Linked DNA regions of Homo sapiens: all the other regions are reported to be linked to region 1. Evidence: microRNA targets listed by miRTarBase, many of them from high-throughput screens and not tested one by one. Region 1 holds a microRNA gene; each other region holds the end of a gene's coding sequence.

The links. The annotated mature microRNA hsa-miR-342-3p reads UCUCACACAGAAAUCGCACCCGU and lies in region 1 at 3,655-3,677, opposite strand. An mRNA with a match to its seed (bases 2 to 7 or 8) in the 3' UTR can be bound and repressed. Matches are read on the target gene's strand: a 7mer-m8 pairs with bases 2 to 8, a 7mer-A1 pairs with bases 2 to 7 and ends in A, and an 8mer does both.
Region 2: miRTarBase lists CHD9 as a target of hsa-miR-342-3p. The part of its 3' UTR that is shown has no 7-base or 8-base seed match.
Region 3: the mRNA of PVRIG is a reported target of hsa-miR-342-3p. Seed matches in the 3' UTR shown: 7mer-m8 at 6,539-6,545 and 7mer-m8 at 6,531-6,537.
Region 4: miRTarBase lists PWP2 as a target of hsa-miR-342-3p. The part of its 3' UTR that is shown has no 7-base or 8-base seed match.

What each region holds. Positions count from the first base shown.
Region 1 is chr14:100,105,665-100,113,391 of GRCh38, reverse strand. MIR342 (microRNA 342) reads right to left here and starts at 3,737; the gene lies at 3,639-3,737. All of the region lies in intron 3 of EVL (Enah/Vasp-like), which reads right to left. It overlaps MIR151B (microRNA 151b), which reads left to right and starts at 3,878; the gene lies at 3,878-3,973.
Region 2 is chr16:53,323,513-53,331,239 of GRCh38, forward strand. It overlaps CHD9 (chromodomain helicase DNA binding protein 9), which reads left to right. Exons shown (of 39, transcript NM_001308319.2): 39 at 508-3,985. The coding sequence ends at 1,383. Among named protein-coding and RNA genes, the nearest start is that of RBL2, 110 kb to the right of the region's middle.
Region 3 is chr7:100,220,225-100,227,951 of GRCh38, reverse strand. PVRIG (PVR related immunoglobulin domain containing) reads right to left here. Exons shown (of 5, transcript NM_001397246.1): 2 at 7,488-7,727; 3 at 7,279-7,405; 4 at 7,132-7,192; 5 at 6,462-7,024. The coding sequence ends at 6,701. It also overlaps the pseudogene CASTOR3P. Among named protein-coding and RNA genes, the nearest start is that of PVRIG, 4.1 kb to the right of the region's middle. RefSeq lists enhancers at 6,244-6,343, 6,364-6,463 and a silencer at 6,884-6,933.
Region 4 is chr21:44,129,338-44,137,064 of GRCh38, reverse strand. It overlaps PWP2 (PWP2 small subunit processome component), which reads right to left. Exons shown (of 21, transcript NM_005049.3): 21 at 5,884-6,468. The coding sequence ends at 6,294. GATD3 (glutamine amidotransferase class 1 domain containing 3) reads right to left here and starts at 3,382. Exons shown (of 7, transcript NM_004649.8): 1 at 3,227-3,382; 2 at 2,911-2,963; 3 at 892-1,005. The coding sequence starts at 3,367. RefSeq lists enhancers at 2,299-2,826, 2,827-3,354, 3,355-3,882.

The sequences.
Region 1 (7,727 bases):
GAGCATATAGACTTGAAGCCACTTAAGAGTTAAATCTGAGTCCTGGCTCTCACTTGCTCTTTGACCTTCCTCGCAGCTCCAGGCATGAGGCTAAGCCTGGGATGTTACGCTCAAAGCCTGCCCTTCTAGGCCTGGTTCTGCTTGTTCCTCAGCCTCCCCTTTCTCTTCTCCCGCATGCATCCAAGATGGCAGCACTAGGTTCACATGCCTCTGTGCCGTTGCCTATTTTGCTTCTTTTTGGGCTACTCTTCTAACTGGTGAACGTCTGTCCATCCCCTTTAAGACTCAGATCAGGCATGCCCGCCCCCAGGGCTCTCCCAGTAGCTCTCCCCTTCACCACAGCCTCCCCTGCAAGAAGCCCTGTGTTCTCTGCATCATAGCATAACATACACTGTATTGACAAGGCTCTCTCTCCACCTGGCTGTGAGCTCTGTGAACACAGGGACCAAGTCTTATTCATCTTTGTGTTCTGGTGCATGGCCCAGAATAGGTGCTCAGTAATTCACAGATGGGGTCATAGCTGTGGATACAAACTGCTCCCCTGGAACTTACAATCTAGAGAGGAGAGACAGGCAACAAATAAAGACACAACATGTAGGAAGAAAAACACAGCAGAGAATGAGAATTAAAGGAATGTGTGTGGGTCGTTCTTAAGACAAACTCTGCGATTACGTGGTATAAGCAGACACCCGGAAGAAGTGAGGGAAGGAGCCCTGAGGTTTTGGGGAGAAAACATTCTGGGCACAAGGGGCCTTGGGTGTAGAGGCCCTGACTTTAGGAGCATGCTTGGCACATCTGGGGCATGGCGTAACTGGGATGAAGGAGGAGAGGTAGAGAGTAGGGAGGAAGTGAGTTCAGAAAGACAGCCAGGGCCACAGCATGCCGGGCTAAGCAGGCCTTGGTAAGGATGTGGACTATATTCTGAGTTAAGCCTAAAATCCTAGAGAGTTCTGGGCAAGGACTGAGACCTGACTGAGAGGTGAAATGCAGTCTGCTTGCTTTGCGGGGAATGGATCAGAGTGGGCTAAATGCAGGAGCAAGCCAGTCAGACAGTGGCTGCTGTGAAACCCCCTGCTGCATGGACACCTGGATGAGAGAGGGCAGGCAGCAGATAGGCAGGGGGCAGGGCCTCAAACACTCGCAGCCTGTCCACTCTCAAACTGGAAACTGTATCTCAAGTTCAGCAGTTGGCTTTCTGAGTCTCCGGAGTTATCTACCAAAATATTTGAGCTGGCTTTTATCCTATATGAGCTGAAGCTGGCAGGAGGCTACTTGTAAAACTCCTTCCTTAGGAAAGAAATGATACACGCTACGCGAGGAAAAAAGAAAACAGCTGTGAATGAATTCTTCCCTCACTTTCGAAGATGTGGGTATGTGGCTAGAAAGATGGGGCAGGTTAAGTGTTTATAATAATCAACCTCTGACCAAGCCGGGTTATAGTTTAGAAAGCTGGGGGGCTGCCAGCTGAGCAGGGTCTTTTGAGAGGCAGTCTGGTCCACTGGGCAGAGACCTGGACTGGAAATCAGAACATCTGGGCTCTGGGCCTTAAGCTCTGCATTCACCAGAGTGGCCTGGGGCAAGTTTCTTAGCACTGTGAGCCTTTGTTTCTTCCTTCTTAAAATGGAGAAAGTAATTCCTGCTATCTCCCTGCAATCTCAGGGAGCCAAGATCCAGGCACAAGAGCATCCAGGAAGGGGTTTGTTCCTTTCTGTAAGGAGTATACGGCTTAGCTCTGGGTGGTGGCACACCAGAATGAAATGACTCTGGCTACGACTGAGGGGTGAGATCCCAGTATCTAGGGATTGGGCACTCCAGGAACAACTTGCATTCACTGTGCCATATGCTTACAAATCACAGTCCCATCTATTTTATCATTTGAGCCTCATGACAACTCTGTGAGGTGGTTGTCACACCCATTTTAAAGACAAGGAAACTGGCCGGGCACGGTGGCTCACACCTGTAATCCCAGCACTTTGGGAGGCCGAGGTGGGTGGATCACCAGAGGTCAGGAGTTCAAGACCAGCCTGGCCAACATGGTGAAACCCTGTCTCTACTAAAAATACAAAAATTAGCCGGGCGTGGTGGCGCATGCCTGTAGTCCCAGCTACTTGGGAGGCTGAGGCAGGAGAATCGCTTGAACCTGGGAGGCAGAGGTTGCAGTGAGCTGAGTTTGCACCACTGCACTCCGGCCTGGGCAACAAGAGCTAGACTCTATCACAAAAAAAAAAAAAAAAAAAAAAAAATGAGGACACTAAGGCTTAGAATGGTGAAATGGCTTGCTCAAGGTTTCACAGCTGCTCCATGTGACAGGGTGGAGCGGGTGCCTGGAGCTAGGGCATGGTACCCTGTCACCTGCCCCCACAATCTGTGCCACTTCTGTCAACCACTGTGCTGACCATGGCAGGCACACCTCAGCTGGCTGCTTCCTGAGCCCTACCAGGAGGCGTCAGGAAGGTGCTGGTGAGGCAAGGCTGGGGAATGAACCACCACCTATCTCAAACCCTGACTGGGCACATGGCGCCTGGGCTGTATCTACAGAAGACTAAAACTCCAAAGGAATCTCGCCATTAGCGTTAGGGAGATAATCCTGGGACTGGTGGAAGGAGGAGACCTCTCTTCTCTAGGATGTAAACTGCAATAAGCCAGCAGCTCTTTTGAGGAGGACAATGGCAGCAGCAGGATGCAGGTGGGATGCTCTGAAATTAGGGGCACCCGTGAGGCATGCACAGTACTACCAATGTGCCGAGGGAGACCCCCAGGGTCAGACAGAGCCTCTTCTCAGATCTTGATTTGAACTTCCAAACCACCAAGATCTGCTGGTGCCGCCGTCCTCCTCCTCATCAGATCCCCCCATTCACCCCCAGCCCTGCAGGGCCCAGGTTCAAGCCCCGCTTCCCTCAGAAAGTGTTCTCTGACCATCAGGATCCAAGAAGCCTGGCTTCCCTCTGTGTCCCAACGTGATGGCTGCTGGCACCACACAGGAGTTGATATTGTTAGTTACCTTTTTTTTTTTTTCCTGAGACAGCGTCTTGCTCTGTTGCCCAGGCTGAAGTGCAGTGGTGTAACCATGGCTCACTGCAGCCTCAGACTCCAGGGCTCAAGCAATTCTGCTACCCCAGCCTCCTGAGTAGCTGGGACCACAGGCACACGCCATCACACTTAGCTAATTTTTAATGCTTTTGTAGAGACAAGGGTCTTGCTATGTTGACCAGGCAGGTCTCGAACTCTCACACTGAAGTGATCCCCTGACCTCCTAAAGTGCTGGGATTACAGGCATGAGCCACTGTGCACGGCTGATATTGTTAGTTACCTTTGCAAATAATTTTTTTAAAAAGAGTAACTTCAAACTGTTATAGTAATTTAGAGGTGACAAAGAATGTTTACAAACATCATCTCATGGTACCCTCACAACAACCCTGTGAGGTGAGTCTGATTCAGCCATTTCACAGATGGCGAAACTGAGTCTTAGGTCAGTGACATGCCCAAGGGCACACTCCTGGCACAGCTGGTACTGGAACCAGATCCGAGTTCACGTCCGAAGTTCCTTCCACAGTATGCACACCTCGGGGCCACAGCAGCTGAAGGCCCTTCCATAGGCTGTGGCTGGAGAAGGCGTGTTCCTCTGTTTGGGGTGGTGATAAGTAGGCCAAGGTGACGGGTGCGATTTCTGTGTGAGACAATTCCATTAACCATGTCCCTCAATCACAGATAGCACCCCTCACCTTGAGCCCAGTTTCACAGGTTGGCCAGCAAGCGGTCTTGGTTCAGGAACTCCATCTTAGTCTGCAGAGAAGGATGCAATGGCAGGAAGTGCCAGGCTATGAGAGGCACACAATATGACATGGGCGCAAGCTGGGAGCTTGTTCAGTCACCAGACACCTCTGATGTGTCAGTCTCTCTTCAGGGCTCCCGAGACACAGAAACAGACACCTGCCCTCGAGGAGCTCACAGTCTAGACAAACAAACCCAGGGTCCAAACAAATGGGACACCAACAGTGTGCGAGGACTGGGAAGGGGTGCCTGAGGTCTTCTGGGGCACTGGGAAGGCTTCACAACAGCAGGGCAAAGGATGAGCAGAAGGTGACCAGGAGTATGGAGAGAACATGCATGAGGGCAGGGGCGGGGCCCCTTTAGACGCAGCCCAGGGAGGACAGACTGAAGAAGGACAAGAGAAGGTGGATGGGTTACAACCCCATTACAACACTTCAGGGGAGAGAGTGTCAGGGGAGAGACGGTGAGAATATGCAGTGCAGGTGGTGAAAATGGGAGCCAGTGAGTCAGAGGGACCAGGGGCTCAGGCCAATGCACAGCCTTCACTGCTGGACATGGTCCCACAGGACCTCGATGCTGAGCTGGGGCCTGGGCTGAGTCAGGAGACAGGGCTCCAGGCACGGCAGCCTCTGGGTCCTGGTGTGTTCCTGCAGCCAGGGATGGATATACTGAGAGCTTATAAGGCAGACGATGTGTGGGTTTTTGGGGTCCAGAGACAAAGAGGCCACTTTCTGAATTTCCAACCTGACTAGATTCATGCAGTGGGAATAGCAGGACAGGCCAAGTGGCAGCTGACTGTTAGGACAGAGGCAAAAATAAAGCCCCGTGGGAGTGCAGGAGGGAGTGCAAAGTCACAGGGAGCGGGGCGGCTGGGAAAGGCTCCATCTGTGGAGCCACATTCTGACAGGACGAGTGAGATTTTAGAAGTGTGGGGAAAAGTGAGAGGGGAAGAAGGGCCAGGGGCACAGGAGAGCCTGAGTAAGAGTGTGACTGACGGTGCGACTTGGGTAGCTGTTGGCATGGAGGCGTACAAAGGCCCTGCCTGATACAACATCTGGAGCCCTGGGGTGAGAACAGGGGTGGGTCAGCAAAGAGACATATCCGGCTTTCAGAAAGTGGCCGCCAGAGGGCAGCTGGGAGCAGGCAGGAGGCCAGGGGCTTGCCGTCCTGTTCCCCTCAGGCAGGGCCATGCTGGGCCTGCTTTCTCTCAGGTGGCACAAGGTGTCAAATGGCCTCGGCAGCCAGGGAGATGAAGACAGTCCAGTACTTCCTTCTCTTTAGGGGAGAAAGAGGTAATTTCCAATGGAAAGAGGTTTACAAGAAGCAAAATTCAGCCCCACCTCCAAGAGCTATGAGGTTTAACAACCTTCCACTCCCCTCCAAAGAGCACATGGAGCTGGGCCTGACTCTTCCCGGGAAGGTCTGCCTGTAAGTCCCTTTCCGGGGCTCTTTCTCAACACTGTGCTGAAGGTGCAGCCCCTGGGCCACTGGGCATCAATGAAGGACATAAGAGGTTGAAAAACTGGGAAAACATTTATTATCCAGCACCAGGAGCTTCATATTTTGAAATATACCAATGATGTTATTACACGCAAACCAAGTAGGAAAAGGACATACATTATGCTCCAAGAGCCAAAGAGAACAAGCACTTCATCCTGTGTTTTAATTCGCCCGGATTCCCACTAAGCTATGGGGTTTTCCTTTTTCTTTTCTTCAGAGTCCCACTGTATAAAGTCGATGAAGAACTACTCTGGTTGCATCAGGGCGAGGACCCTGGTATACCTTGGTGGACCCCTGGAACTCCTCAAAATATCCAGTTTGAAATCCACTGCATTCAACCCCCAAACTGCAAATAAACTTGCCTTTGACCACACATGCTTCTGTCCCACCCCCACCCAATCCAGCAGCAGGGGCACGTCTGACAAGATTTCATTAGTGAGAACCAAATGCGAAGAAACAGTCAAAATCCAGTTACTCAACCCTCTCCTCACCAGCACTGCTTTCCATGCACCTCGGCCCTCTTCCTAAAGCCTGGTCCTTTTCTGGTCCTTGGCCTGGAAAAAGTGATCTTTCATGAGGGAATGCTAGTGGAGGAACGTTGGGCGTGGCCATGGTTCTGCTCAGACTTGTCCTGTGGCCTGCACACATCCTCCCCCTCACTGGGTCTTGGTTTTGTCATCTGTAAATGTAAACCCAGTCTCATGACACCCAAGCCTCCTTCCCTGGCTCCCACTCACTGGCCCTACCCCGGCCTAGACTATCTGCCTTCTACACCAGCAGAGGCTTTGAGGGGGATTTTCTTTAAAATTCACTCCCACTATGTGGTCGAGTGCCATCAGCTTGGGGTCTTGCCTCAAGTGCCACCAGGGCCCTGCTCTCCTGGAGTAATGGGAGACGATGACACGATGACTCTAGTAAGTTCTGAGAGGACCTACAGTGGTTTAATGGAAAACTGCTGGATGTGGGGACAAAAAGAGGAGCAGCATGGGGCACGGCCCTGAAGGCCACATACCAGGCACCGGGCATCTTCGTGTCATGTGAACTGCCACGGGCCTGTGGTGTCATTCCACCTGCTGATGGAGGAGGTGACTTGCTCAGGGTCACACAGACCCAACGTAGCCCGGCTCCAGGACATGCACTCTTCCTGCTAGACCAAGCTGCTCCCACCACACTTCCAGGCACTGGAGGAGAAGAGGAGCATGTTCTCATCCTGGCTTCTCTTCCTGACTGGGTCATATCAGGAAGTGGTTTGGGCCAAGTACAAACTTCCTCCCTCTGGGGCTCAGTTTTCCTGGCTGTGAAATGAGACAGACACTGTGCTATCTCCATGGCACTGTTAAGCGACAACCAGGCAAGACACAGATGCAATGCAGGAAGGAACCAGCCCGAGTTTCACAAAACTTCAACCCTCTCAGGCCCGATGGTCCTCTTTTTATTATAATGTTTTGTAATGATCCTTGCATTATCCTGAAGTGAAATTCATAGATTACATAACCTACCTACCTAAATTCGGATATAATGCCTTACATGTACTGCAAAGGAGAGAGAAAAGAGAAGCAGTCTATAATAAAATGTGCATTACAACACATAAAGGGCCAGACCCAGCTACACTAGGAGACGGAGGCGGTCCACGCTTGCACCTACCCACAGACCCACTGGGAGTGCTGCTGCTGCAAATGGGATGTGACGAAGGGGAGGTCTATGGATGACTGAAACGTCACAGTGACGATGCTGGAGATAGGACTTTACGAAACAGAAAACAACTCTTGGTAAAGTTACAAACAAAATTAAGTATGATTTTCTTTTGACGGATGCAGTAGTCAAATTCCTAGAAAATTCAGCACATACTAAACCTGGTTAAAAAAATAAGTGCTTTTTCTTAAAACAGAGCAAGCTCTGGCTTGAGTTTTTCAACTGCATGTTTTGGTGGGACACGCAAGACAAGACTTCACTGCGCAGGATGATCCTGCACATTGCAATGTGCACCTGTCCCCGCTGTCCCCTAAATCGCCAACAGCTCTCCGTTTCCACTTTGTCTCTGGTGAGAGCTTCTTGTCTGGTCTGACACTGCCATTTCAGAGTCTAGAACATCAACACCTACAAAGAAGACAAAACGTAACTAAAGCCACATGCGAGGCAAAGGCTGAGTGGGGGCAAGAGCCTCCTCCCGGCTTGCAGGGCAGGTTCTCCCCCGACTCAAGGAAGCTCATGGACAGTCAAACTTTCTGCAGAGTTTCAGACACTGTGGCAGGGGAGGCATGTTCCCTATTCAGTTGGGATGTGGCCAAGCGGCTGCTGCTGCTACAACCACTACTACTTACTGCTAGTCACCATCACAGCCCTTCCTGCTTGTGCTAGGCTGTCTGTCTCAAATACTTCTACAGCCATCGTCCCCTTGGACTCTCATGCTGCGAGACAGACATGCCACGGATAACCACCTACATTTCACAGACGAA
Region 2 (7,727 bases), not on the chromosome of region 1:
CCCACTTTGAGTATCTTTTTGAGCATGGCTCTATCTCCTTTATTCCCAAAGTGACAGTAAAATAATTCATATGAAGCATCTTACTATAACCTTAACCTTTAATATTCCTTCTTTATTGTTCTTCCCAATTAGAAGGGAGCCACTTCTTTGGTCTTCTAGGACAAGTGATGGTGTGAAACATGTAAGGGTTATGGAAGTACCCATGAAAAAATTTTTTTGGACCTTATATTTTCTAGAATTATACTACAATCTTATGTTTTACAGTATGGAGGAAGGCTAAAGACCTCTTTACTCACTTATTCTGTGATAAAATGAAAAGTGGAAGAGCTGTTTGAAGCTACCACTTATATAAAATTAGGTTATTGCTATTATAATTGATTATTTAATATCAGTACAGAATAAATTTACAAATAATTACCTATTTTTCATGGTTATTTGTATGATAAGCTAATAACTCTTTATTTTATTTTCATGTAGGGATTATTAATGAATATATATTTCTTCCAGGGATTTCTTCCAGAAAGCATGTATGAACGTATTCTCACTGGTCCCGTTGTGAGAGAGGAAGTAAGCAGGCGGGGGAGACGGCCTAAAAGTGGAATTGCAAAGGCCACAGCAGCAGCAGCTGCTGCATCTGCCACCAGTGTTTCAGGCAATCCTTTGTTAGCCAATGGACTACTTCCAGGTGTGGATCTCACAACTCTTCAGGCCTTACAACAAAACCTACAAAACTTGCAGTCACTGCAAGTAACTGCTGGGTTGATGGGAATGCCTACCGGCCTTCCTTCTGGAGGAGAAGCTAAAAACATGGCTGCTATGTTCCCCATGCTGCTGTCAGGAATGGCTGGATTACCAAATCTGTTGGGCATGGGAGGACTCCTGACAAAGCCTACGGAATCTGGGACAGAAGACAAAAAGGGAAGTGACTCTAAGGAGTCAGAAGGAAAAACAGAAAGGACAGAGAGCCAAAGTTCAGAGAATGGTGGAGAAAACTCTGTGTCAAGTTCTCCTTCCACATCCTCTACTGCTGCATTAAATACAGCTGCAGCTGCCAACCCATTAGCTCTTAACCCACTATTACTATCTAATATACTTTATCCAGGGATGCTTCTCACTCCAGGCCTTAATCTTCATATTCCAACTTTGTCCCAGTCCAATACTTTTGATGTACAAAACAAAAACAGTGACTTAGGCTCGTCTAAGTCTGTAGAAGTAAAAGAAGAAGATTCCAGAATTAAAGATCAGGAAGACAAAGGAGGAACTGAACCAAGTCCTCTCAATGAAAACAGCACAGATGAGGGTTCAGAGAAAGCTGATGCTTCATCTGGATCTGATAGTACATCGTCGTCATCTGAGGATTCAGATTCTAGTAATGAAGACTGATTCCCAGACTCTGCACTTAAAATATGAACTGATTTTGGATTTTTTCTTTAATAATTAATTGTAAATACCCCAGTGTTGAGTGCATCAATAACTTACTGACCGAACATTTCAGTTATTTGTTTAGAAGTGCAAACTGCTTTCAGAGACTTTTTGCATGTAATATTTCTTAAGATTCATAAGTTTCTGAACTCGTATGTACTATCAAATACATAAAGGTGTAAAATTACAACAAAAGGCATTATAATTTTGTTGGGGGTTAATTTTATGAAAATTATGCTCAATAAGAGTTGTATATTTAATATATTTGCAGTGAACACAGAATACTTTATGCATATTACTGATTTAATTTGAATATAGTTTTACAGCCTCCTTGACACCTATAATTTACAGATCAAAACTCAGCAATAATTTGGGCAGCTAATGAATGTCATGAAAGCTGTAGAATCTACATCACCATCCATTGCTTTAATTACATGAAAATGCTCTAGTGTTGTGATGCACTGCTGATGTTTCCAATTCAGGTACAAGTATGTTTTAAAGAAGAAATAAGTTTCCCAATCAGCCAATTTAACTGGCTACCTGTTACCTCAGCTGAGTTAGTTTAGGAAGTTTACATTCGTTTCTAATTCTATACTTGTTTTCAGGGGTTTTTTAAACACATCCTATATATCATGTCAATCTGGCAAGAAATATGACTTGCTTTTTGCTGAGCTTAATTCAGATATCAGTAAAATTAAGTCATAAAATAATCATGTGTCATGTGACTTTGGCACCCTATAGACATACTTAGTTTTAACTTTTCAAAGTTTGGCCTCCTATTAGAAATAATCATGTCTCAGATGAGTAATGTCTGTTTCCAGGGTTCAGAAAAGGCAAACTCATGAAATGCCACTGAAAAGAACTTTCAACACAGCATACTTCATGTAAAAGAAATTGTTTGTTTGCTTTCTTTGTGTAGATTTCTATTTGTGTTTTATGTCATGGAAATATTCCAGAATTAACAGATAATAGTGGTAAAGTAATATGCAGATAGTCTAAATTCATTTTGAGTTTCTAGGTGTAAGCAGACTAAATGTTGCCCAGAATCAGTGTTGGGTTATCAGTTTATATTAAATATACTGAGTTGCCCGTTTTGAAAATGCACTTTGAATAATCTCAAAAAGATGTACAAGTTATACCTGTAAACCACAAAAGTGAAGCCTGAGGCTTCTGTTCAATTTCATAGACTCCTTTACCATGTAAAATTTGTCTGATATTTGATTTGTGATACAATTTCTCCTGCTAAAGCTGCTATTATTCTGACAAGGTAGAGGTCCAGGTTCACCTTTATATATATTTAAAACAATTAGTACTGAATTGGACATAAAAATATTGACATTCTAAGGAGAGATATATGTTAGCATTTTTCTGGTACTCAAATAAGTTAGTAGTAAAGTCTGCAAGGGCATAAATTTAGGGGGAAAAAGTGTCCCAGTTCTCTCCTACAGAAAAAATACTTTCAGTATGTTTTGATAAAACTGTTGCTTTGTCATGAGTTAGTCAATTGTATCAGGTTTTCCAAGACCTTTACCAGTAAATTATGTTTCTGTATGTAAAATAACCCCTTATTAGAGAGACAGTGTTATATGTATTTACAAAATTATATAAGTTCCATTGGGATTGTATTGATTTTGTATTTTCCCAAAATAGTACTTTGAATTGATAGTCCTTTATGCAATGTCTTAGCAATAGTCTCTATAATGCCCATCCAGGAGAAGTGGGTAGTAATTCTTCATCATGAAAATGATATATTACATATTTAGTATCTTCCCTTTGCAGTATTGCACTTTTGTTTAACTAGAATACACCTATGAGATAGCCAAAGTTTCAAACACAGTTATCTTAGTTTACCGGTGGAGTATTTCAACACCAACCACATTTCCCTTCCTCCCTCTAATTCTACCCACATGATCTTTATTCCTTCCTTTCGCCAATTAAAAAAAAAAAAAAGGAAAAAAAATCTGTAGATCTTGTCACTAAAATCTAATTTATATCAAATTTATGAGAGAAAGTATTTTCCTAATTATGGTCAAATAAATTTGGTTAACATCCTAGTGATTCTCTTTCTATATAATAAGGCAATTACAGTTTTCAAAGCATTAAGTCTAACATAACTTTAAACATTCTCTTAGGTTTCAAGACACTTCTATTTAATATTCATTGGGGAAAAGTTGTCCAGCTATCAGCTAAGAAAACACATGCAAATATGGTTGTGTAAAGTTAAGGGTTATAAGGAAAAAAAAATCAGTAGAATTACATAATACTAAAGTTGCAGTTGAAAGAATATCCAAGTATGTGTTGGTAGTTACTAAAAGAATTATAGCTGTTATTGCCTTGTATTTATAGCCCTTGTTTCAGGTTTTATGATTCAAGTCTTAGTCCAATCTTTCTTTTGGACATTTGCAATATTTACCAGTTGTGTTTTGTGTAGTCTGAATTTGCTTTCTGTAGTTGAGCAAACGTCTTAAAAAGTCATTTGTAATTTATTAAATTACTTTCTATGATGTTCTATAGAGCAAATGGAAGTTTAATTATTTTTTATTAAACATATTCTTTGACTACCCATGATGTCAGCCTCTGTACATGAGAATACTTTTTAAAATTGAATTTTATATAGAATTTATCTTATTCCAGTTATGAGAGACACCATAGTTGTAAATCTTTAAAAGGAAAATATACCGTGGAAGAATTTTTAAAACAAAAATTGGCTATAATTTTATCCACAGTATCTTAAATGCTGTCAATTTTTCATTTTGATTTAATTTTATTAATATTGTTCATTGTGGATATTGGTGACTGCAAAAAAAGCAAAAGCTGCTTCTTGGGCATTCAAATTGTTAAACCCCAATTTTGCAGCCCAATCTCAACTTCATGCTGAACATTAAGTATTATTTTCTTAAGTTTTTGGACTTTTAAAAAACTCAGAAATACTCAGAGATATTCCTCACCTCTTTAAGAAGTCCATTTTGGAAATCAATAATTATTTTTTTCCCTTAGTCTTAAGAGTGTTTCCTAACTCATTGCCATGGGTAGTGTTCTTCGTAAACATTGAAGAAAATAGTTTTTCCTCTAATTACACAACTAAAACAGTGGAGTCTCATACTCATTTAACTTGAACACATTCAACTACACTTTCATGTTTAGAAAACCTTTTTTTCATTTTTGTACAACATAACATATAAACACAAACCAACTGCTTCATCTAGTACTCACCCAGAGGAACAGTAGTCTGTTCCAGTGTTGGAGGAAGAATTGCCTATGTTGGACATTTTTGAGAAGAGATATGAGGTATAAAATGATGTATTCTGTAATTTGTGAGCTCTGTGAGAGAAAAGAGTGATTTTTTTTTTTTTTATAAAGACAAGGTCTTGCTCTGCCTCCCCTAGGGTGGAGTGCAGTGGTGCGATCACAGCCCACTGCATCCTTGACCTGTTGGGCTCAAGCAATCCTCCCTCCTCAGCCTCCTGAGTAGCTGAGACTACAGCATGCATCACCACAACGAGCTAATTTTTGTATTTTTTGTAGAGATGGGGTTTTGCCGTGTTGCCCAGGCTGATCTCAAACTCCTGGGCTCAAGCAGTCTACCCATCTCGGCCTCCCAAAGTGCTGGGATTACAGGTGTGAGCCACCACACCCAGCCAGAAATGATTTTTGACTACACCTAATATTCACTTTATACAATAAACTTAGAACTTAATCTCTATATAAGCTATTTATTTTAAAATTCAGAAAAGCAAAAAAATATTTAAATCATTCATAAACTAAAACTACCCAGAGATAAACACTGTCAGTAATATATTCAATCTTTTGTATATCTATGTTATTTACATGTAGTGGGTTGAGTAGTGTCATTCAGAAACTGATGTCAACCTAAAACCTCAGAATGTGGCCTTATTTTGGAAATCGGGTCTTGGCAAATGTAATTAGTTGTAGTCATGCCGGATTAGGGTGGGCCCTAAATCCAATGACTAGTGTCCTTAGAAGAAGAGCAGAAGATACTCAGAAACACTGGGAAGGCTGTTTTGTGATAAAGGAGACCGGAGGGATGTTCCTACAACTAGGGAACACCAAGGATTGCCAGCAACCACCAGAAGCTAGGAGAGAAGTAACAAGCATTCTCCTTCATAGCTTCCGGAAAGAACCAACCTTGCCAACACCTTGATTTGGGGTTTCTAACCTGAACTGTAAGAGAATAAATTTCCATTGTTTTAAGTCACCTAGTTTGTGGTAATTTGTCATGGCAGCCCTAGGAAACTGATAGCTTTTCATATTAACTCAGTGTTTTATGGTACATAATTTCTACCTGCTGTAGGCTTTGAAAAAGAAGAAAAAAAACTTGGTGCACTGCCCTTAATATACTGACCTATGTCAAATAAGAATCCTGCAATGTAATTTTTAATACATAGTATTGATTCATACAGATGTAATTTATTTAATCATTAATTTAAAATGGATATTTGGGTTTATGTAGACATTTTTGCATCCATCCCTAAATAATTTGCTTAATTCCTAGAACTGAAAATACTTCCTCTGTTTTTAAGGACTTCAGTTTATGTTTCCACGTTTATAACGAAGCTCCTAGTAGCTATTTATACTAACATTAGCAGCATACGTTTTGCGCATGCCCATTTATTCCCAAATCTTTGCCAATGCTGTGTATTGTCTTTTTAAATAATCTTTGCCAAATTAATAGGCATAAATTATATTTTGATCTTTAAAATTAACTTATTGTTCTTTTTTCCTAGTTAAAAAAAAAAAGACATCCATATTATAGAAAATCCAAAGGGACAGGGGAAGCACAAAGTAAAACCCCCATAATGCTGAATTCAGAGATAATCGTTAACCTTTGGGTAATTTTTCTTTGCATATACATAATATATATTTGAATAACAACGGAGTTATACTGTACATACCATTTGTAACCTACTTTTTTCATTGACTATATCATGACTATCTTTCCATGTCATTAAAGAATCTTCCACAACATTATTAAGGGCTTTCTGATATTCCAATATATAGATGTATTATAATTTAATACCCAATTATTGAACATTTAGATATATAATATTTCAGTTTGGGGCTACTAAACAATAAGGTGTTTCTAGTTAAATATTTGCATACATTTATGATTCTTTCATTAAATATTTAGGCATGAAATAGTTGTGTTTGAGTCTTGGAACCAGTAAGATTGTTCTATTTTATACCTCAACAGCAAAGCGAACAGGATATGCAGGATGCCTGCATTTATAATTAAATAATCTAAATATACATTACGAAGTATTCAGCTCATGTGTATCATATATATGCATTATATATCACAGGCGTTTTTTTCCTGTTTTGCATATTATGCAAACAGTAGACAAGAAAACTGGAGTGACTTTACTAATACCAGATAAATAGACTTTAAAACAAAAGAAAATTGCTAGAAATAAACATTTTATAATGATAAAAAAGGCCAATCTACTGGGAAAAATCACAATTATAAACATATATGCACTTAACAACAAAGCTGCACAATTCATGAAGCAAAAACTAACACAGTTGAAAGAAGAAGTATACAATAAAACAAGAATAGTTGGAGACTTCAATATATCCTTTATATAATGGATAATATAACTTTTTTATTTTATTATTATACTTTAAGTTTTAGGGTACGTGTGCACAATGTGCAGGTTTGTTACATATGTATACATGTGCCGTGTTGGTGTGCTGCACCCATTAACTTGTCATTTAGCATTAGGTATATCTTCTAATGCTATCCCTCCCCCCCTCCCCTGGTGTCCATGTGTTCTCATTGTTCAATTCCCACCTATGAGTGAGAACATGTGGTGTTTGGTTTTTTGTCCTTGCGATAGTTTGCTGAGAATGATGGTTTCCAGCTTCATCCATGTCCCTACAAAGGACATGAACTCCTCATTTTTTATGGCTGCATAGTATTCCATGGTGTATATGTGCCACATTTTCTTAATCCAGTCTATCATTGTTGGACGTTTGGGTTGGTTCCAAGTCTTTGCTGTTGTGAATAGTGCCGCAATAAACATTCATGTGCATGTGTCTTTATAGCAGCATGATTTATAATCCTTTGGGTATATACCCAGTAATGGGATGGCTGGGTCAAATGGTATTTCTAGTTCTAGATCCCTGAGGAATCGCCACACTGACTTCCACAATGGTTGTACTAGTTTACAGTCCCACCAACAGTGTAAAAGTGTTCCTATTTCCCCACATCCTCTCCAGCACCTGTTGTTTCTTGACTTTTTAGTGATCGCCATTCTAACTGGTGTGAGATAGTATCTCACTGTAGT
Region 3 (7,727 bases), not on the chromosome of region 1:
TACGTGTGTGTGTGACCGAGTCTTGTTCTGTCACCCCTGTTGGGAGTGCAGTTACACAATCTCTGCTCACTGCAACCTCCACCTCCTGGGTTCAAGCAATTCTCATGCCTCAGCCTCCTGAGTAGGTGGGATTACAGGCACTCACCACCACGCCCGGCTAATTTTTATATTTTTAGTACAGACAAGGTTTCACCCATGTTGGCCAGGCTGGTCTTGAACTCCTGACCTCAAATCATCTGCCTGCCTTGGCCTCCCAAAGTACTGGGATTACAGGCATGAGCCACCGTACCTGGCCTCTTTTAAGTATTTAATGAGCACTGTGTGCAGTGCTAGGTGTCCTGACAGATTCAGAATAACGTTAGAAGCCTCTGGGTAATGGGTAGAAGCTTAGACTTGGAGTTAGAGGGGCCCAGTGCTTATCTAGGCTCCACATCACCAGCCCTCACCCATCACAGTCCCCTTGTCTGTGAACTGGGAACAGCAGTACATCATTGTGGTCCATGCCACGCGTGGCAAGGCATGGTCAGCAGGCAGTGACTGATCAAAAGGTGGAGAGGTGGCCAGGCAAGGTGGCTGACACCTGTAATCCCAGCACTTTGGGAGGCCGAGGCAGGCAGATCACTTGAGGTCAGGAGTTCAAGACCAGCCTGCCCAACATGGTGAAACCCCTTCTCTACTAAAAATACAAAAAAAAAAGAGCCAGGCATGGTGGTATGCACCTGTAGTCCCAGCTACTCAGGAGGCTGAGACATGAGAATCGCTTGAACCCGGGAGGCAGAGGTTGCAGTGAGCCGAGATCGCGCCACTGCACTCCAGCCTGGGCAACAGAGTAAGACACTCTCCCTCAAAAAAAAAGCAGCAGCAGCTCTGGGTTCTTCCCAGGGTGGAGGCTGTGAGCAGGGCGGGTAGACCAATCCATCAGACAGGCTGCCTGCTCCTGGCCAGCTGCTGATTGACCTGAAATCCTCCAGCCAGCAGCAGCCGCCTCTTCCCCCACAGCCATGTTTCCAGCTGGTCTCAGGCCTGGGCTTCTCCCCAAGACCACTCTGGGTCTCGTCCAAACCTGCCAAGAGACTCCTAGTGGCAGAGTCTTGGTTATGTCAGCACCCCCTCAAGGTGCATATATGCACCCCAGCACTTCACCACCTCGGAGGCTATATCAGCAGCCGCTTCCGCTGGGGAGGACAGAGCCAGGATTGGCCCCTCGGAGTCCGAAGCCTGCGGCTTTGATAAGAGACAGGCCTCCCACTGCTCAAGACTGGGGCCGCCTTTTCCCATTTCTGTGCAGCTGCCTGCCTCTCTAGCCACCCACTGGCTGACCACTGGTCCTTCTCAGCCAGCGGGACCAATGGGCTCCCTGGGCTGTGGTCACCATGGTGACCAGAGCTGGGCAGGTAGGAACAGGCATGGGCCTCACTCAATTTCCCTCCTCTCAGGCCATCTTGCCTGCCAGCAGAGCCCAGCTCGTCTTTCCCCAGGAATCTTCATCATCACAGCTGCCTTAGCTCACCCATCTCTGAGCCCCTGTCTCCCTTTTTATCGATTTATTTTTTGAGATAGGGTCTGGCTGTGTCACCTAGGCTGGAGTGCAGTGGTGCAGTCATAGCTCACTGCAGCCTTGAAATCCCAGACTCAAGCGATCCTCCCACCTCAGCCTCCCAAGCGTCTGGGACCACAGGCATGTGCCACCACGCCTGGCTCATTTATTTTTAATTTTTTTAGAGATGGGGTCTCAGTACGTTCTCCAGGCTGGTCTCCAATTCCTGGTCTCAAGCGATCCTCCCACCTTGGCCTCCCAAAGCAATGAGAGTACAGGCGTGAGCCACTGCCTCCAGCCTCAGCACCTCTCTTTTTAGCCCCCTATTTTCTTAGGGACTTGGTGGTTTTCATTTGGTGCCCAAAATAGAGCCTGGGTTCTTGAGCCAGACCCACACTGGAATCCTGGCTCTGTTATTTCCTAAGTGATCTTCGGCAAATCACTGAGCCTTCCAGGTCCAGAGTTTCTGGACCGTTGAGTGTACAGTGAGCAAAATAACCCTGCCTTGGCCAGGCGCGGTGGCTCACGCTTGTAATCCCAGCCCTTTGGGAGACCAAGGTGGGTGGATCACTTGAGGCCAGGAGTTTGAGACCAGCCAGGCCAACGTGGTGAAACCCCATCTTTACCAAAAATACAAAAATTAGCCAGGCATGGTGGTGGGTGCCTCTAATCCCAGCTACTCGAGAGGCCGAGGCAGGATAATTGCTTGAACCAGGAGGCAGAGGTTGCAGTGAGCCAAGATCATGCCAATGCACTCCAGCCTGGGTGACAGAGTGAGGCTCCATCTCAAAAAAAAAAAAATCCTGCCTCCTTGTGGGATGCAGTGTCAGAGTTCACCTCCCTGTGCCGTGCCCCCTCCCCACTCAGGGCCTGGCACTAGGTGGGTTTATGCAGGTGCCTGGTGATGTATGAAGAGCCCCAAATGCAGCCTGGGCTCGAGTCTGCGGCTGGGTGTGGTCACACATAGTGTGTGCCTGTGTCCCACGTTCAGGGCTACTCAGGGACTCTGTCTGTAGGACAGGGTGGAAGGGATGGCTCCAGCGTTTGGATTCTGGGTTTTCATGAGCTAGGTAAGGAGGCTTAGCAGTTGCTGCTGCTGTGGACTCCCCCGCCTGCCAAAGCCATTGCCAGCCCCTGGGACTTCCAGGCTCTCAGGAGGGACATGGGTGACAGTCACTGCCCCCCATGATGCAGCCTCTTCAGGGGCCCTCCTGGAGTTGCCTGTTCTTCCAGAGAAGCCCAATGTGCAGGGCTGGCTGAAGGGGGAAGAGAAACCCCAAAGCCCCACCCAGCCTTTTCCTGGCCTCCCCTCCACCCAGAGCCTTCCTGGGAGGTCTCCAGGAACCCAGTTTGAAAGCCAGTTGCACGCGAGACAATGGGCGTGATGACAGCATCAGACCCACAAAAGGGTTGTAAGAACTAAAGATAAGGGCATTACCCACTACTGATGCCATCGTTTTACGGCTGAGGAAACTGAGGCTTGGCGCAGATCAACCACTTGCCCACATGGCTCCTACTCTGCTAAGCTGCTGGGGATGTCCTGTGTCATCTGAGGGCCTTCCCTGCCCAGTCCTCCCAGGAAGCAGCCTTTGATTCAAATCCCATTCTGTTGAAGGCCGAGCGCAGTGGCTCACGCCTGTAATCCTAGCGCTTTGGGAGGCCAAGGCAGGAGGACCCCTTGAGATCAGGAGTTCGAGACCAGCCAGACCAACATGGGAAAATGCCATCTCTACTAAAAATACAAAAATTAGCTGGGTGTGATGGTGCATACCTGTAATCTCCACTACTCAAGAATCACTTGAACCCAGGAGGTGGAGGTTGCAATGAGCCGAGATTGCACCACTGCACTCCAGCCTGGGCGACAGAGCAAGACTCTCTCAAAAAACAATCCCATCCAGCCAGGTGCGGTGGCTCACGCCTCTAATCCCAGCACTTTGGGAGGCTGACGCAGGCGGATCACGAGGTCAAGAGATTGAGACCATCCTGGCCAACATGGTGAAACCCCGTCTCTATTAAAAATACAAAAATTAGCCAGGCATGGTGGCACGTGCCTGTAATCCCAGCTACTTGGGAGGCCGAGGCAGGAGAATCACTTGAACCAGGAAGTCAGAGGTTGCAGTGAGCCGAGATCGCACCACTCCAGGCACTCCAGCCTGGTGACAGAGCAAGACTGTCTCAAAAAAAAAAAAAAAAAAAAAATCCTGTTGGAAAGTGAGGCAAGGCACAGGGTAGAGCTGGCCCCAGAGCCTCACTCTCCACCTCTCTGGCCTACCTTGCCCTGCCCTTGGGACAGCTGGAACCTCAGCAGTCACAGGGCTGCCTTCTGTGTCTCCCTCCAGAGCTGCCCTCCTCGGAGCACCTGAGTGTGGCGGATGCCACCTGGCTGGCCCTGAACGTGGTGTCCGGCGGTGGCAGCTTCTCCAGCTCCCAGCCTATTGGCATGACCAAGATCGCCAAGTCAGTCATCGCCCCACTGGCTGACCAGAACATATCCGTGTTCATGCTGTCCACGTATCAGACAGACTTCATCCTGGTGAGCTGACCATCACAGACACGCCTTGCACACTTGGGCCCGCCTCTGACACACTCACTCCCATCTCCCACCCCTTGCAGCCTTGCCCTTCCACGCTATTCCAGGGTGGGGGCAGAGTCTCAGGGTGAGAGGTTGGTGCCCCAGGGCCACCAGGCACACACAGCCTCAACTTCTTGCCCCTAGGTGCTCAAGCGGGACCTGCCCTTTGTCACCCACACGTTGTCATCAGAGTTCACCATCCTGTGGTCAGTGGCTAGACTGTAGCAGCCGAGAACCTCGGCATCACCAGTGGCTTCGTGAAGCCCAAGCTGGGTGAGCTGGGGGCGGGGGTTTGTGCGGGGAAACCTCACGAAGTTACCAGGCCAAGCCGTAGACCAGCCTTGCTCTCAGCACGGGCTTCTGCCCACTGAGCATGAATGGAGTGCCAGGCAGAACGGGATGCAAAGGGCAAGGTGTGGTGGCTCATGCTTGTAAACCCAGCACTTTGGGAGGCCGAGGCAGGCAATTCACCTGAGGTCAGGAGTTTGAGACAAGCCTGACCAACATGGAGAAACCTGGTCTCTACTAAAAATACAAAATTAGCTGGGTGTGGTGGTGCATATTTGTAATTCCAGCTACTGAGGAGGCTGAGGCAGGAGAATCACTTGAACCCAGGAGGCGGAGGTTGCGGTGAGCCGAGATTGTGCCATTGCACTCCAGTCTGGGCAACAAGAACAAAACTCCATCTCAAAAAAAAAAAAATGTGATGGAAAGGTCCTGGGCAGGCCCTGCTGCCATGTCTAGCAAGGGTGGTGGACGTGCATGCATACAGCAATGGCCAGAGGCCACTCCTGCTGCAATCCCAGGTGTCAGGGTGGGTTTCCCTGGGCAGGGACTGTGGTGCTGAAGCCTGGAACACAGGTAGGAACGGGGCCAGGTGGTGCCAGTTGGGAAGGGCATCCCAGGCAGCCAGCACAGCATGTGCAAAGGCCCAGGGGCCTGAGAGTGAGATGGAGAATCAGGACGGTGGTAATTGGTGGTAGAGGCTGGAGAAGCAGCAGTGAATGAGTCTCTCAGGGCCTGCGGCTGAGCCCTCCCCAGCCCTCTTCCCAGGCCCTGCACTCACCAGAGCTGCTGCTTTCAGTCCCAGCCTCAGTGCCTGACATCTTTGTGCTCTTACAGTCCAGATGCCGGTCATCCACCCACTGTCCAGCCCGAGCAACAGGTTCTGTGTCACCAGCCTGGACCCCGACACGCTGCCTGCTGTTGCCACACTCCTCATGGATGTCATGTCCTACTTCAATGGGTAGGGCTGCCTTGGGCATGAGGGGTCGCCGGCTGGACCAGGGGGAGGCACGGCTCTGCCTAGGAGTCTTAGTCTGACGGGGGAGGCTTTGCCAGGAGCTCATCTGAGGGAAGAGACACAGACCTTCCCTGGAGCTAGTCTGAGCGGGGAGACATGGACCCACCCCGGAACTAATCTGAGTGGGAAGGCAAGGACCCGTTCCAGAGCTAGTCTGAGCGGGGAGACAAAGACCCGCCCCAGAACTAGTCTGAGGTGGGAGACATGGACCTGCCCTGGAGCTAGTCTGAGGTGGGAGACACAGACCCGCCCCGGAGCTAGTCTGATGGGGGAGACACGGACCCGCCCCAGAGCTAGTTTAAATGGGGAGACACAGACCTGCCCTGGAGCTAGTCTGAGGTGGGAGACATGGACCTGCCCCAGAGATAGTCTGAAGGGGGAGACACGGACCAGCCCCAAAGCTGGTCTGAGGTGGGAGACAGGGACCCACCCTGGAACTAGTTTGGGGTGGGAGACACGGACCCGCCCTGGAACTAGGCTGAGGGGGAGACACAGCTCTACCAAGCAGAAAGGTTGGCTCTGGATGGAACATTTTGTGGGGAGTCCCCCATGTCTGTGAAGGCCTCTGCCTTCCCCGAGAGGAGGCGGGGGAAGTGATTGAGGGAAGATTTCAGGTGAGTCCCCCTACTCTCCACACCCTGCCTAACGCCAGCTGTGGAAGGAGGGCATCAGGACCCCAGCCCAGGCCACAGCAGGGAGCCCAGCAGAGGGAAGCCAGGTCAAACCACAGGGACTTCTCTCAGGCCAAAGCCCCAGGAACCCTTGCTGTTGTCCTAGAACATGGTGGGATTGGAGCAGAGACCATCCCACTGGGATCCCCCAGCCCTATCTAGGCAGCCACAGGTGTCCCTCAGGAAGCTCCCCCAACACCCCTGCCACTCTGAGAAGCCAGGACAGATCTCTAAGATTGGGACACTGCCCTCTCCCTGGGCCAACCCCAGCCCTGCAATGAGGCCCCAACCCACTCTGGTTCTCACCTGGCTTCTGCCTCCCAGGGGTGGAGACTGCCTCCCCACTCTCTTCACCCCCAAAGAAGAAGCACAGCCGAGGCCGACATCAGAGAAACTGTGTTGCTGACTTAGTTGCAGCAGGAAATGACTGAAATGGGGTAACTGTCACTCACACACTCACACCTGTGCCCACACACGCACACACAGAGACCACATCCGCAGCAGGTGGGCCTGGCCAGACACCTATGGGACACTTATTGGAGGCCCAAGAATTAAAGTAAGGGGGTGACACCCAGGAGGCCTGGGAGGGGGAAAGCCCAGTGGCCTCATGGTCTCTCTCATCGAACTCCTAAGGGTCCTTCCATGGCCCTGGGCCCCCGAGGGTCAGGGAAAAGAGTGAGGCCGGGACCAGTGTGAGGAGGCCTCTCCCCTGCCTGAGCGTAGAGTCCATTCTCAACAGAGACAAAGCTGCCACGTGCAGGGATGGGTGTGGAGGCCCAGGCGGCAGGGCCCTGGGGCCGGTGTGCAGCGTGGGTGGGGAGTGACGCCCACCAGGACGGCCCCCCATGGGGGTGAGCTGTGTCCAAAGTAGCTGGGCGGCAGCTGGTGTTGATAGTGGCATAAGGGACGTGAAGAGCAGCCTGGGAGGCCTGGCTTGGTGCCTGCGCGGGGGAAGGAGGGTCAAGTGAGTCTGCACAGCTTGGGCCCAGCCCTGGCCCCCCTGCCCCTGCCCCTGTCACCTCATCCCCAAAGCAGGTCCCCTCCTCACCCATGCTCGTGCTCTCGGTGCCTGGGGGCTGGTGCGGGACGGCTGGAGCCTAGGGGCAGGGCTGGGAGAGAGCAAGGATGGTCAGAGCTCTGCAGGGCATGTGGCCATCCCAGTGTCAGGGGGACGTGGACAGGGACCAGGTCTCACCGGTGCTTATGTCGGCGCAGCAGATGAAGGAGGTAGACACAGCCAAAGAGGAGGACTCCTGAGACCCCCAAGATCCCGGCCAGGTCTGCCCGCAGAATGGGGGCAGGAGTCGGCGGGGCAGAGAGCCCTGGGCACGGAGACAAGAATCAGATGGGTGGCCAGTTCCCGAGCCCCTCCCTGCCCTCCTGGACCCCTCGCCCCGGCCCCACCTGGGTCTGAGCTGGGCGGGAGGCTCCCACAGGCCTCCCAGGAGCCCTCAGGGAAGGACGCAAACTTGCAGCAGAAGGTGGTGTTGGCGCAGGGGCTGCTGGCCCCAGAGCCTTCCAGGATGAGAGAGATGCTGCTCTGGGTTTCCCAGCGGGCCTGGCGAGCAGGGGCCCATTGCCGGATGCCACGTTCTGGGTGCAACACAGCCAGCGTGGTCCCCCCAGCACCGTTGGGGCCCCCCC
Region 4 (7,727 bases), not on the chromosome of region 1:
GGGGACTTACTTCCAGGTCAGCATGTTTGGTCACTACCTGGAAAGACAACATGGTTCTAGCAACGCTAAATCTATGCTGGGCTCTTCCGATCAGCACTTCAGAACCTGCGCCAAATCACTCTGAATCTTCTGCAGTCAAGGCCCATGGGAAATGGAAGTCTCTCCGAGTGTCTAAAGCAGACAGAATTCTGTGCACTCATCAGGACGGTGGGACTCAGAGGGGAAGGTAAGAAGCCAGGACTCAGGACCAGTGAAGCAACCCGAAGGCCAGCCACCGCAGGAAGCTGCTAGCCCCCAGGTGTGGGGGCCGAAGGTGCAAGTCCAGGTGCAGAAGCCAGGGTCCCAGGCAGGAAAAGAAATCACAGGGGTCCCCACTGGTGAGAAGCACAGCCCCAGGAGGCAGCTATGGCTTCTTCCTCGAATCTCCAGCTCCGACCTCTCGTGGTCCGAGGCCAGTTGGAAGGCACCTTGGAATGGCCTGCACAGGGCTGTCAGGCAGGACAGGCAAGGGAAGGGGATCTCAGGCCACACAGGCCAGAACCACACACACCGCAGTAACAGACATGCTGCTGGGAACCAGCAAAACAGATCTGGAGCCCAGACAGGGGAAGAAGGTGGGCGACCAAGCTGAGAACCACCACCTTTGCTTAAGACCAAGGTATGAGCAGCCTGACTCAGTGGGAAGCGATCCGGTCGCCATTTTCAGTCCTTCTGTGAGTACTGGAAGGAAGGCACTCCTGAGCCTTGGCAGCATTACTTCTGGAACAGCCCGAGCACAGCTGCTCAGAAGGACGTTCATTTGCACACAAGACTTGGTTTAAGCTAAGCCAGCAAAAAAAGGCTGCACCGTGGGAGGTAGACAAGAAGCAAGTTCCAATCCCACCCCCACACCTGCTCTCGCCTTCGGACGGCTGCCCCTTGGTGTGGTCAATCACGTGCATCTGAGGGACGTCAGGAGCAAAGATCTGGACTTCAGCCCCTCCACGGCTCAGGTGCACCAGGATCCTGCACGGGGGAAAACCAGAGACAACTCTTCAAAACGTGCCCCACTCAGATTTGTGTTAACACATTTTTAAAAACAGGATTTTAGCTAAGTACCAGGAGCAAATTCCTAATGTATATTAATATCTTACTTGCTCTGCAAAAAGTTACAGTTGGTTCCATACCAAGCCAAACGTCCCCCACACCCCCATTCCAATTCACTGTCGGTTGGTGGGTTACGACTATGACAAACCCTCAGAAGTGGGCTATGGAGATCAGCTGGTCCCAACAGCTCCCTTTGCAAACTGGGGTATGGGGGCCGGGTGACTCCACTGAGGGCACAGCCTGGAGGCGTGCGGGTCCCCGGCTGCTGAGTGCTCTACCTACACCCAGGGCCTGGCTGCCCTCCTCCAGTTGCTTGCTGCAAGCACCAAGAGTGAGAAGCAGCAGTGTGCTCAGAGTGCCACGTGCACAGACGGTGTGACGGGGCTTTCGGTCACTACTTAGTTCAATTTCTAGTCTCCCTCAACTTTCCCATCACAGATGGTGGGAGAGACACAAGAGACCCCAGGACAACACCACAGGCCAGGCAGCTCCATCTCCCCAAGGGCAAGGGCAACAGAAGCTCCTCCTGGGGACAACAGCTGACATTATGGGGGCTCACGCTGGCATCCGCAACTCCCAGTGCCAACAGGAGATAGGTGGCTAAGCCCACCCACACACTAAGCCCTCACTGCCCCTTACGTGGAGGAGGAAACCGAGGCATGAAGTGCAGTGACTTGCCAGAGGGAGAGGTCAGCACCTGGCCCTGGCACTTGGGTTCCGCTACCCATAAGAAATCCACCCAGACACCCCAGACACAAGACCCTGCCGTTCTGCCTGGGAGGGCTCAAGCTATTCTGGGGCTATTTTCTATCCCACCAAGGCCAAATCATGAAACACATCCTGGCCCTTTCCCCCAGCTCACTCTGCCTAGTGCCAACTCCAACCAGCCAAGGTGGGCCACCCACAAAGCCACCAGCCTCAGGCCACTCTCCATGGCCTGACACCCCTTTCGCCACCACCCAGCTCTCCCCTCTCCAGTTCACCCTGAACCACATGGGAACTACAGGTACCTGGCACGCGTGGTGGCCTCCTGCCCTACTGGTTCGGCCTGCAGTCATTTCCAGTAGCACAGGAAATCAGGCCACCAAGCACTCAGCAACAGCTGACCAGTTACGTAAACAGTAACCTGTCTAGGACCCAGAAATACCACGCAACTGTTAAAATGATGTTGAGAACTGAATGAATGGGAATTACTTCCCATGCGTCAGAAACATTTGCAAAACACGGGTGAGTGTGATCTCAGTGTTTTCAAAATGTGTGTGTCCTGAAAAACACTCAAGTGAAATGCTAAGTCATTTCTAGGCTCTAGGTGACAGCATAAGCGACACTTAAAAACTGTTCTTTCTTAGCGTCTCCCTGGGTTTTGCAAGTCGTTTTTGCTTTTTTTTAGCCAAGAATAGGGTATTTAAAATACAAGCTCTCTCGGCCGGGTGCAGTGGCTCATGCCTGTAATCCCAGCACTTTGGGAGGCCAAAGCGGGAGGATCACTTGAGGTCAGGAGTTTGAGACCAGCCTGGCCAACATGGTGAAACTCCGTATCTACCAAAAATACACAAATTAGTTGGGTGTGGTGGTGCATGCTTGTAGTCCCAGCTACTCGGAAGGCTGAGGCAGGAGAATCGCTTGAACCCAGGAGGCGGAGGCCGCAGTGAGCCAAGATCGCGCCATTGCACTCCAGACTGGGCGCTGTCTCAAAAGACAAAAAGTAAAAATAAAATAAAATACATGCTTTCTCTAAGCTGTTCAAAAAAGAGTAAACTTCACTGGTGGAGAGGCCTTCTCGAGGCCCCCGGGGTGGAGGACCAGCTGCCCCTGAGGACTTACGCCGAGGCCTCGTGGATCTCGGTCCCATCGTAGACTCCGCATCCAGACAGCACCTGCGAGAGGAGCGGGAGCTGACCCGGGGGAAAGGGGCCGACCTGGGCGGCGGGAGTTGACTGGGGGGAAAGGGGCCGACCTGGGCCGCGGGCGCTGACCCGGGAAAATGGGGCCGACCTGGGCCGCAGGAGCTGACTTGGGGTGAAGGAGCCGACGTGGGGCGGCGGGAGCGGACCTAGGAAGAGGGGCCGACCTTGGGCAGAGAACAGCGAAGGCTGATCTCTGGAGGCGGGAGCTGACCTCACCCCCTCCGTCCACTCACCAGCGCGACCCTGGCCGCGGGGCGCGGCACGGAGAGGTGAAGGGCTGCGCGCTGGGAAGGCGTCCGACCGCCGGGGGACAGGGACGTGAATGCAGATGCCGCAGCGAGCCTCGAGGCCACCAGGACCCTCACAGCCGCCATTGCGGTGAGGACAGCGGGGTCGGAAGGTCACGCAGGGACAGAGCGTGCGCACCCACCCCTCTACAAACGCGTTGCTCGTCGGGACTGCGCCTGCGCAGCCTTCTGGGCGGAGCCAAGACCCGCCCCCGTCTCAGCCCTATCCAGTGAGTTCGCCGGTGGGCGGGGGCCGCGCCTGCGCAGAGCCTCCGAATAGAGTTCCGGGAACCCTGTCTTCCTTCCGGTGGTGGCTGAGGGCTCGTGCTCGAGGCTGAGGGATGCTGGTGACTCCCGGGGTCCCCAGCCCCGCCCCCATCGGACGCCTCCACAGGCGGCGCACCCTTTCCGCCATCCGCAGAGCAAGGCTGCCTCGGGGCGGCTCAGTCCGGCGCTTCTTACCTTACCTCCGTCTCATCCTTAACTCACCACGAGCGTCCAGGGTCCACATCCTCCTAAATGGCCACTCGTCTTAATCTCGGCGTCAGGACCCACGCGGGGTCAGGACTACCCCTCCGCTTCCATGACTGTCTCCTCGCGGCTCCGGCTCCCACGGAGCGACCCCTCCGGGTTTTACTGACCCCGGGATGTTGTATCCTGGAAACTGCAGTTCCACCCAGGGGCTTGATCTGGGTTAGTCTGGGGGCAAGTGAGCCGCCGATTCTGTTTGGGTTTTTTTTTTTTTTTTTTTGAGACGGAGTTTCCCTCTTGTTGCCCGGGCTGGAGTGCAATGGCGCGAAGTCGGCTCAACGCAACCTCCGCCTCCCAGGTTCAAGCGACTCTTCTGCCTCAGCCTCCCAAGTAGCTGGGACTACAGGCATGCGCCACCACGCCAGGCTAATTTTGTATTTTTAGTAGAGACGGGGTTTCTCCATGTTGGTCTGGCTGGTCTTGAACTCCCGAGCTCAGGTGATCTGCCCGCCTCGGACTCCCAAAGTGCTGGGATTACAGGCGTGAGCCACCATTCCCGGGCGCTGTTTGGGTTTGTTTTTTTGTTTTTGTTTTTTACGTTCACAGCATGGACGGTCAGTGTGAAGATCCCAGCTGCTCGGGTCCTAGCTGGAATTCTTCCATTAAAAAAATCTGTTTGTTATGCATGGGTTAGTTCACAGAGGAATAGCTGGATAAGTGCTGGCTTTTTCCCCGATTTACCCATTTTCAACCTAATAATGCAGGTTTTTGAAATAATGTGAATGGTTACTGCTGGCGGATGTTCACAGGGACACACCGGATTCTACAGACACATCTGATGATCTAGCCACGGCTGTCACTTTCCCCACTGCCGCGTTGTCCATCACTAGGACTTTACTGCCAATCCTTGCAAGATAGTGGGGAACTAGAATAACAGACATGGGACATTACCAGTTACAACCAAAGACAAGCTTGGCACATTTGACTGTCCTCGTTCCTGCTCCTCCGTGCCTGGCCCTCTTCAGGCTTCTCAGCTCCTGGGGAGCGGCCAGCCAGGGAGCATCAGCTGGTGGGAGCGATGGGGTTGTGGGATGGCACAAAAAAACACCAAGCGCCACTCAGAAAGGAAATGCCGAATGCAGACTCTCACTCAGTCGGTGTGGGGGCCAGGACCCTGTCTCTACCAAGTGTGCGGGAGCTGCCCCTGGCCGGGAGCTCCCAGACCCCACTGCAGAGCCGCAGCTCCAGTTGTCCCAGGGGCGACTACTCAGGTGTCCATCGCCATGCACATGTGACACAGAAAAGGGTGAGGCGAGGAGGGGGAACGCTGGAAATTGTTTCACGGAAAAGGGCGAGGCAAGGGAGGGGAACACTGGAACTTGTGCTTTGGGTAGGCGATAGCTAAGGATTCTCTCTCGTCTGGGTCACGGAGATTGTGCAGCCACAGAACACCTGGTGTCATCAGGGCCTGAGCTCCTCCCTTCTACAAAGACCTCTGGTCTGCAGGCCTGCAGGTACAGTGCTGTGGGCCACAAGGCACTGCCTGTCGTATTCATCTCCACTCTCTAGCACATCTGGCCTCACGCCACCCCCGGGAGGCCGGCAGGCAGATATCAGCTCCACTTCCCAGATAAGCAAGGGAGCCAGGTACTACCCAGGGTCTTGGGGGCCACACCGCTGGCGAGGGACAGGCTGGGCCTGGCAGACAGCACTGGCAGTCGGTGAAGTGCCCACCTCAGTGTCAGCCTCAGGTCCTGACCCTGGAGGCTGCTGTTACTGAGCTGTGGGGACCAGGATGCCCTACCATGATGGAGACCCAAGCCTCTCTCATGATGACTATTCCCAAGGGCACTGCAGAGGGGAGGAGCTGTCTCCTCCTCCGTGTGGCCCACGCAGAGCTGGTGCAGGTCTGAGTGAGCTCACCAAGACAGGCCAATCCCAGCCCCAGACTCCAAAGCATCCCCAAGAGGTCAGGGAGAGGCTCTGTGCCCCTGACCCCAAGGATATGCACAGGTCACAAGGCAGAGCCCCCGCTAGACAGCAGGAGCACCCTGCTCTGTCAGCCTGCTTCCCCAGGACGGAGGCCCTGGTGGTAAGGCAGGCAGGTCTTGAGCCCCCACAAGACAGCAGGATACAACATAACCCTTTTTAATCTGAAGTGTAGACTTCATCCTCACGTTAGAAAACTCCATCTTTTTTTTAATCCCTAAGTTCTTTATCAAACCTTTATGTTAAAGATATAAATAAGTCTCATACAAAGTTCATGTGAATACCTCTCTGAGACGCATTTTCAACATTCATCACCGTTCACACGGCCCCGCTCCTGGGGCCAGGTGCCAGTGCGTGCCGGCCCCTGGCGTGACCCGTCGGCTCGCTGTCCTGATGGGCTACATGTGTGCACAGGAAAAGCAAGTCACTACCACTAGTGACAGTATTTCAGCTGTTCTCTGGACCCCTCCTCTTTGCTGGCCCAGGTGGCACAAGGGTCCCATCTCCCTGGCAGGTCTTAGCCGGCACAATCCAACGCTGCAACCGGCTGGCTCTAGGCCAGCATCTCTTCTTCTGAGTCTCTGCCTCCTCCTCCAAGCAGATGCAGGCTGTCATCTTCAGATGCTTCTGCCTCCTCCTCACTTCCCAGCGGGTCTAGGGAGCGTTTTGTGCCCCGCTGCTTGGAAACTGCTAGTGCGTACTGCATGTTATAGTGGTTCCAGCTACAGCTGTCAATCACACAGGGATGGTCAATGCCAGCAACGCCCAGGCCCTGGCCTGTCCTGCACCCAACCACCTCCTCTGTGACCCCTGAGAAAAGCAGCAGGGGCTGGACATGCCGGTTCCTCCACCCCAGCAGCCATTTTTTTCCTCTTTTCCCTGCCCCAACAATCTGGTTCTGCCCCATCCAGCCCTGGGGCAGCAAAGGCCTTCAAGGACCCAAGGACCCAACTGTAACATCCCATCCCTTTGGGGTCATCCTGGCAGCTCAGCCCTTCCGCTGGGCCCAATCTAGATGGCTTCACCAGCAAGTTCCACCAAACACTTAGGAAGAGACCGCTGCAGAGCTATGTGGTGTTGTGGAGCGAGAGGGGAGGAAGGCACGCTCTGAATCAGTTAATTTTCTGAGTTAATGGAATAAAGGAGAAAAGTGATGCCACCATCACTTTACATAGGAAAGGAGAACTGAAAGATAAATGGATGAGAAAGGAAGGAAGCGCCCCATCGCATCTGCAGGGCACAGGACCCTCTGTGCAGGACTCTTCCTGACAGCCAATGGCAACCCTACAGATTGGCAGTGAACGCCTAGACAGGAGGTCCAAGGAACAATGCACTTACGTGAACTCTAAAAACATCCCATAAGAGGGAATAAATCTAAAGGAGCTGGGCCGGGTATGGTGGCTCATACCTATAATCCCAGCACTTTGTTTGAGAGGCAGAGGCAGGCAGATCACCTGAGGTCAGGAGTTTCAGACCAGCCTGGCCAACAAGGTGAAACCCTGTCTCTACTAAAAATACAAAAATTAGCTGGGGGTGGTGGCGTGTGCCTGTAACCACAGCTACTTGGGAGGCTGAGGCAGGAGAATTGCTTGAACCTGGGAGGCAGAGGTTGCAATGTGCCGAGATCACGCCACTGCACTCCAGCCTAAGCAACAGAGCGAGACTTCATCTCAAATAATAATAATAATAATAATGAATTAAAAAATAAATAAATACATAAATAAGGGAGCTAGACAACCCTCCTCCCCTACAGAGCTCTGTGAAAAGTCCAGGACATCTCAGCCGAGGGAAGGCCTGGCACCAAAACTGTGGATCAGGGCACATCCCAGCCTTCTGTAGGGCACCCAGAACACGAGGGGAGGACAGGCTCGACCTGGACTCCAGGACTCTTTCCAAAGACTGAGTGACACTTCAAGGACAGACAGGAGGACCACATGAACCCACAAGGCCCAAACTCAGGCTCTGCCCCTGAACCCTGGACAGAGCA